Regions from separate parts of the Homo sapiens genome. Here region 2 is linked to region 1. The links come from fine-mapping of genetic effects on gene expression. A gene starts in region 1. The other region holds a variant in brackets. All regions are shown on one strand. Distances are between the middles of the regions.

Region 1 (2,903 bases):
TAAAAACGTCAGTCGCTGCTCAAGTCCTGGAGGCTTTGATGATGGTTCTTACTACAGCCCTTTTCTGTTCCCGTTCAATTCTGGCATCAAGAGATGTTTGAAATAAGTTCCACCCTGTATCTCATCAAGACAACTGAACTTGGAGAAATGGTGGAATTTAAAATACTGAAAGATCACTGCCAGAATTTTCTCAGTTCCTGCTTCCAAAATGCCTATAACCTGCAGAAGATACAGTTTGCATCACACTAAAAATGGTCCGGTCATAGCTGCAGTCTGCAATTTAATCTCAAGTTTCTACACAGTAGACCACTGTCATTAATATCAAGGTAAGAGCTTTTAAAACCTATACTCTCTTAAAGTCCTACGGTATCATTAAGTTTTAGAGTTTAAAATTCAGAATTTAAAGGTATTGAAAACCCTTCAAGTACCTACTCCAACTCCACTTTATAAATGAGAAAACCAAATACCAGGTGAGTCCTTCAATATATAATGAGCCTGCGGCACTGGTAGGGTTAGAAACGTAACCCTTGCCCAGTATTGAAAGCTAAGATTAACAGGAACCCGTTGCTTTGTAAATCCCAGTATTAAACGCTCAAGAGGCAGAGCTTGGTGGCAAAAACGATCACTGGGGTGCCAAAGCGAGTAACCTCAGCTAATTAAACACGCTCAATAAAAATACACGAGACCAAGCCTACGACGTAAAGATGCAATCCTACGTAGGGTCTTGGTGTTATCTCCTGCCTTCTGAACCCCGCTGACCGTTTTCTGAGGTTCCACTCATGCAGGAAGCGCGCGGTGACGAGGCTCCAATTCCTCTCAAAGCTGACACCACCCTGCACCTGGGGCCCCTGATGGCAGCCGGTCCTACCGGGTTCTAAAATTACCGACGTGGGATCACTGTTCTAAGGCTTTAGGCAGCCGTAAATTCGTACCCCTCAGATAGAAGGAGCTGTGGAAACTAACCAGGACCCCGAGTCCCCCAAGGAGGCTGCGCGCCGCTACGGGACCCGACCTCGCCTCACAGCTGCGGCCATCGCCGGCCCGGCTCGGAGGAGGCGAAAGCGAGGCCGCGGACGGCCCTCACCCCGAATCCATGGACCCCGCCCGCCTGGCGGGCCACCCTTCTTTCCGTCCCTCCCCCGAAGCCTCTCCGTGCCTCGACTCCTCCGCGAACACCGGAACCCAGGGACGTCTGCCCCTTTTCCCTCAGGCAACTCCCTGGCCGCCCACCGTTGCCGTAGCAACGCCCGCCTCCGCGCTCGCTCCCCGCGGGCTTGCTCACCAGCCCTGCCCCGCCCCGCCCCATACTGCGCATGCTCGCCAGCCCCGCCCGGCCCACATTGCGCATGCTTGCCAACCACGCCCTGTCCACACCACACTGCGCATGCTCGCCGGCCCCCGCCCCGCGCACGGCGTCAGCGTCTAGACGCAGGTGCGTTCCCGTCGAGGCTCGCGCAGCGGGCGTTTTTGGGGATCGCCTGGCGGGGGTGTTCGGGAGCCGCGGGCTGAAGCACGGGGGCGTGCAGGCGCCCAGGCCTCGTGTAGTGAGGGCCGAGCCCCGCGCCGGCTTCGCTGTAGTCCGCAGCCCCCGGCGGCTTTGTGGGCGCAGCCACGCTCCTCAGCCGCCCGCCCACCTGGGCCTGGGCCCCGGTTGTTTCCCTGCGGTGGCTGTGGTCGTTCCCGTTCCAGGGTCTCGAGCGCACCGCCCCTTCGCTGCGCTGTTAGTCGAGGGCAGTTTTCTGGGGGATCCCCCGATCCCCCCGCGCCGCTCAGGCGTCTTGGCTCGCGGAAGCGCAGGCGCCGACTGCCTGGCGTCGTCCGTGACTCCTGGCCCTTCTCTGTGGATCCCTTTGCTTCTCGTTGCGGGTTGTGTTTCCTGCTTCGTGGGCCTGGCCGTTTGCGTTTGGATGCAGGCCCGGGTGAGCCCTGCGTGGCCCGCTGGCCTTTTCCTGCTCCCTAGGTGACTGAGCCGCGTGTGTGACACATCGGAGTGAATTGAGGCAACGCGTTCCTTTCCAGGCTTGCAGCGGGCGGTGTCGTTCACGCTCCTGAGCAGAGCCTTCCGGTGCTTTACTCGACGCCACAAATAGTGCAGGGTTCCTCCCAGGGGCTGTCGCGAGCTAGAACTCTTCCCCGCCCCTGTGAGCTCGGGCTGTTCTTCCTCCTCCGCGTGGCTCACTCCAGCCTCGGATGTTTCCTCGCTGCACAGACCTGCTCGGGAAGACTCGAGAAGGCCACCCCAGGACTCCAGCTCTCCCCGGAAGGGCTTCCCCTCGGATTGCGTCTTGGCCCCTGGAACCCTCCCTCTGTATCCTCTGCTGTTCCTCTCTTGGCCTCCATTTGGGTTGTGGCCTGGATACTCTGGCTCGCTGCTTCCCTTCTCTTAAGGATCACAGCCCTGCACTGCCTGTCGTCCGGTGCCTGGAAACCATTGTATTTTTTGGTCTGATTTTGTAGTTGTTTGAGAACTTAAGTCTGGTCCCTCACACTCCATGCCCAGAAGCAGAAATGAGTAAAGTTTGTTTTATCTTTTCTTAATATGACAATTATTGTGTTGGTTCAACTTATGTTGTACTTTAATTAGAAGAAATTTGGCCGAAAATACAAGGAAAATATACAAATGCAAGTAATTTTTTTTAAACTTCCCTGAAAGCAGGGTCTAAAGAAATTACCAACCAACTTAGACTGGATCTAGAAGAAAAGGAAGGGTCTTTGCAGTCTTAGGACTCTTCCGTTCCGCGACGTAGGTGTTAGGATAACAGCCATAAATGGTTGTAAGACTTTGGGCTCAGATAAGTAGACTTAAGTTCAAATTTTGACTTATTTTACAAGTGTGTGATTTTTGGCAAGCTCATCTTCCTAAACCATGAGCTCCTTATTTGTAAAGGGGACATTAGCCACTC
Region 2 (2,903 bases), 780 kb before region 1:
CTTCCTGTCCAGGTGAACGGTAGGCTGGGCTGCACCTCCCCTGGCTAGGGGGTTCTGGCCCTGGGCTTTGCACCTACACAGCACAGCAGTGACAGTGGCAGCCCGCTCTGTCCTCTCCTGAGAAGAAACGAAGTCAGCACGGGGAGAAACCCAGGACCGCCCAGGGATGGCGAGGGCCTGCCCTTGAGGAGTCCCCAGGGCATCACCGCCCCCTGGTCTGGGCTCAGAACAGCAGCGCCTCGCCAGGAACACTCAAACCCCAGCGACGAGGGGCCCAAGGCACCCAAACGCGGGAAGTCCATCTTTCCCGGGGTGCTCCCATCCCCAAATAACCTCCGGGAATCCCACGGGTGCTCACCCAGCCCAACTCTCCCCACGCCTGCCTGCCAGGACAGCGTCTAGAGCCCAGCCCCTTGGCGCCCTCGCCCTCTGAGATGCCCAACAGCCCTGCAGCCGCGTGGGTGGCCTCGTCAGGACACACAGGGCCCCCACACGGCTGAGGCCTCCCACCAGCGCCAGCCATGTCCACGCCTCGCTTGCCAAGAACCACGATTGTGGCCCTTCCTCAGTGCAACCGAAGGGCTCGCCTGGGAGGGTTCCAGATGCAGGAGAAAACTGTTTTGCCAAATAAAAAAAACTGTCAGAAACCTCTAAAATATGAATCTAGGGACGCCTTCCAGGCACCCTGCTCTGTCCACAGCCAGTGTGGGCTGCAGGGGAGCTGCCCTGACCAACCTGATGGAGGGCAGGACCCCTCTTAAGGACCAGGGCAGGCAGGGGGAGGAGTGCGGGTGCGTAGAAGCTCGCAGGGATGAGCGCTCATCTGACCTTTGACCTGGCCATCCCACTTCTGGGAATCCGCCCCAAAGACAACAGACAAGTCCAGGAAGGGACCCTGTGGGACCCTGTAGGAACAAGAACCTCCCCAGAAGTGGCAAAAAAATAAAACAGGATTTCCGCCTGCAGGAAGTCAGCCCGCAGGAGTAAGAACGGCACTGGGCTGTGATGAAGTCATCTCGGTACAAAGGAATTCTGTGCCACGAAAATATTCATGGAAATATTTCCTGATGCGATGTCTTTCCCAGCATATCGTTGGGTAAAGCACAGACTGCTGTGTGTCCACCAAGACAAGGTCTCCAGGTGGCAGGGATCATTTCTTTGTTTTCATATCTGCATTTCTGGTTTTTCTACCAATGATCAGGTATTCCCTGTATGTTGATTTTACTTCCAAAATTTAGGAATAAAATATTTAAAGTTAATAAAGTGAGTGCCTCTTCTCCAAGCAGACGGTGACCTCCTCCTTCGAATGCTCCCTGGTGACGCAGCTTTCTCTTGGGGCTTGGCCCTCAATGTACTCCAGTTAATTAATACTTTTCATCTGGGGTAGAAGGTACATTTCAGTACAAGCAAATGCCCAGTCAATAAGGGAAGACTTTTTTTTTTAGATAGGGTGGTCTCACTCTGTTGCCCAGGCTGGAGCACAGTGTCATGATCACAGCTGGGTGTACGCGATCCTCCCACCTCAGCCTCCGAGTAGCTGG[A/T]GCTACAGGTGTGTGCCACCACACCCGGCTAACTTTTTTATGTTTTTTGTAGAGACAGGGTCTCACTCAGTTGCCCAGGCTGGTCTGGAACTCCTGGGCTCAAGGGATCCTCCTGCCTCAGCCTCCCGAAGTGCTGGGATGACAGGCATGAGCCACCGTGCTCAACTCGGGAAGGCTTCTTTTCGGAAGACATCAAGCTGATAAAGGCAGGATGAGTAACAGGATGAGGAGGCCGGCGTTCTGCAGCCACTCACGAATGGTAGTCCAGACCCCAGATGCCGCTGCATAGCAAGGCAGCGGGAGATGAACGAGCTACCAGTCTCTGAGAGTGGAAGGGCCAGCACAGAGGTGAGAGACCCTCCACACCCTGGAGGAGCATGGCCCCAGCACCCCTACGGTGACTGCACTCAGCGTCTCCAGCAGGACCGCCAGGTGCGCACGGGGCTCCGCCACACAGGAGGAGGTGCCCGCGTCTCCTGCCCCACGCACGGGTTGTGCTGGGCCCAGATGTGTGACTGCAGGTCCTACGGCCCCCAGGACCTGCACAGGGGGCAGAGGATCCAGGTGAGCAACTCGGGGCGGGGGCAGGGGCAGGTCCGGAATGCGGCAGGTCTGCCGGTGAGGCGCACGGCCCTCCAGACGCCCAGGAAGGAAAAGCAAAGGCGGGAGTGAAGGATCGCCTCATGTTTATTTAAATATTATGTAATTAAGTTATAAATAAAAGTAACTTTTGTTTATGTTTAATGTATTGAAATGGAAGGAAATAAAAACAAATGGAAATGAAAGCCCATTGGGGCAGGTGCGGAAGCCGGACTCCCCTGAGGGCGCCTTGTTTGTGAATTCTGCTTTGGAACCATGCACATATTTACAGCAAACATTTCTTAAATCCTAGACGTTGAAAGTAAAAGAAAATAAATGAAGCTAAGGGTCTACGGAGTTGTTGGCTTAGCCACACCAAGAGGGATTATCTCAAGATTTATGCATCCCAGTGTCACAGCCTGAGAACAACCATGGGGCCGGGCGCGGGGGCTCACCCCTGTCATCCCAGCACTGGGAGGCCGAGGCGGGTGGATCACCTGAGGTCAGGAGTTCGAGACCAGCCTGGCCAACGTGGCAAAACTCCGTCTCTACTAAAAATACAAAAATTAGCTGGGCGTGGTGGTGCATGCCTGTAATCCCAGCTACTCGGGAGGCTGAGGCAGGAGAATCGCTTGAACTGGGAGGCGGAGGTTGCAGTGAGCCGAGATCGCACCACTGCACTTTAGCCTGGGCGACAGAGCGAGACTCCGTCTCAAAAAAAAAAAAAAAAAAAAGAAAGAAAGAAAGAGAAAAAGGATCGAAGAGCTCTCTCTGAATTTTAAA

The links. PIP is the estimated chance that this variant, and not a neighbour inherited with it, causes the effect.
Region 2: its variant is fine-mapped to the expression of RNF32 in testis (GTEx, PIP 0.97).

The regions. Positions count from the first base shown.
Region 1 is chr7:156,639,065-156,641,967 of GRCh38, reverse strand. It overlaps RNF32 (ring finger protein 32), which reads right to left and starts at 1,194. Exons shown (of 9, transcript NM_030936.4): 1 at 1,157-1,194. It overlaps RNF32-DT (RNF32 divergent transcript), which reads left to right and starts at 1,433. Exons shown (of 4, transcript NR_026865.2): 1 at 1,433-2,903. RefSeq lists a silencer at 1,294-1,603 and an enhancer at 1,172-1,763.
Region 2 is chr7:157,421,588-157,424,490 of GRCh38, reverse strand. No RefSeq gene overlaps it. Among named protein-coding and RNA genes, the nearest start is that of DNAJB6, 86 kb to the right of the region's middle. The variant A/T (reference allele first, on the strand shown) is at 1,542.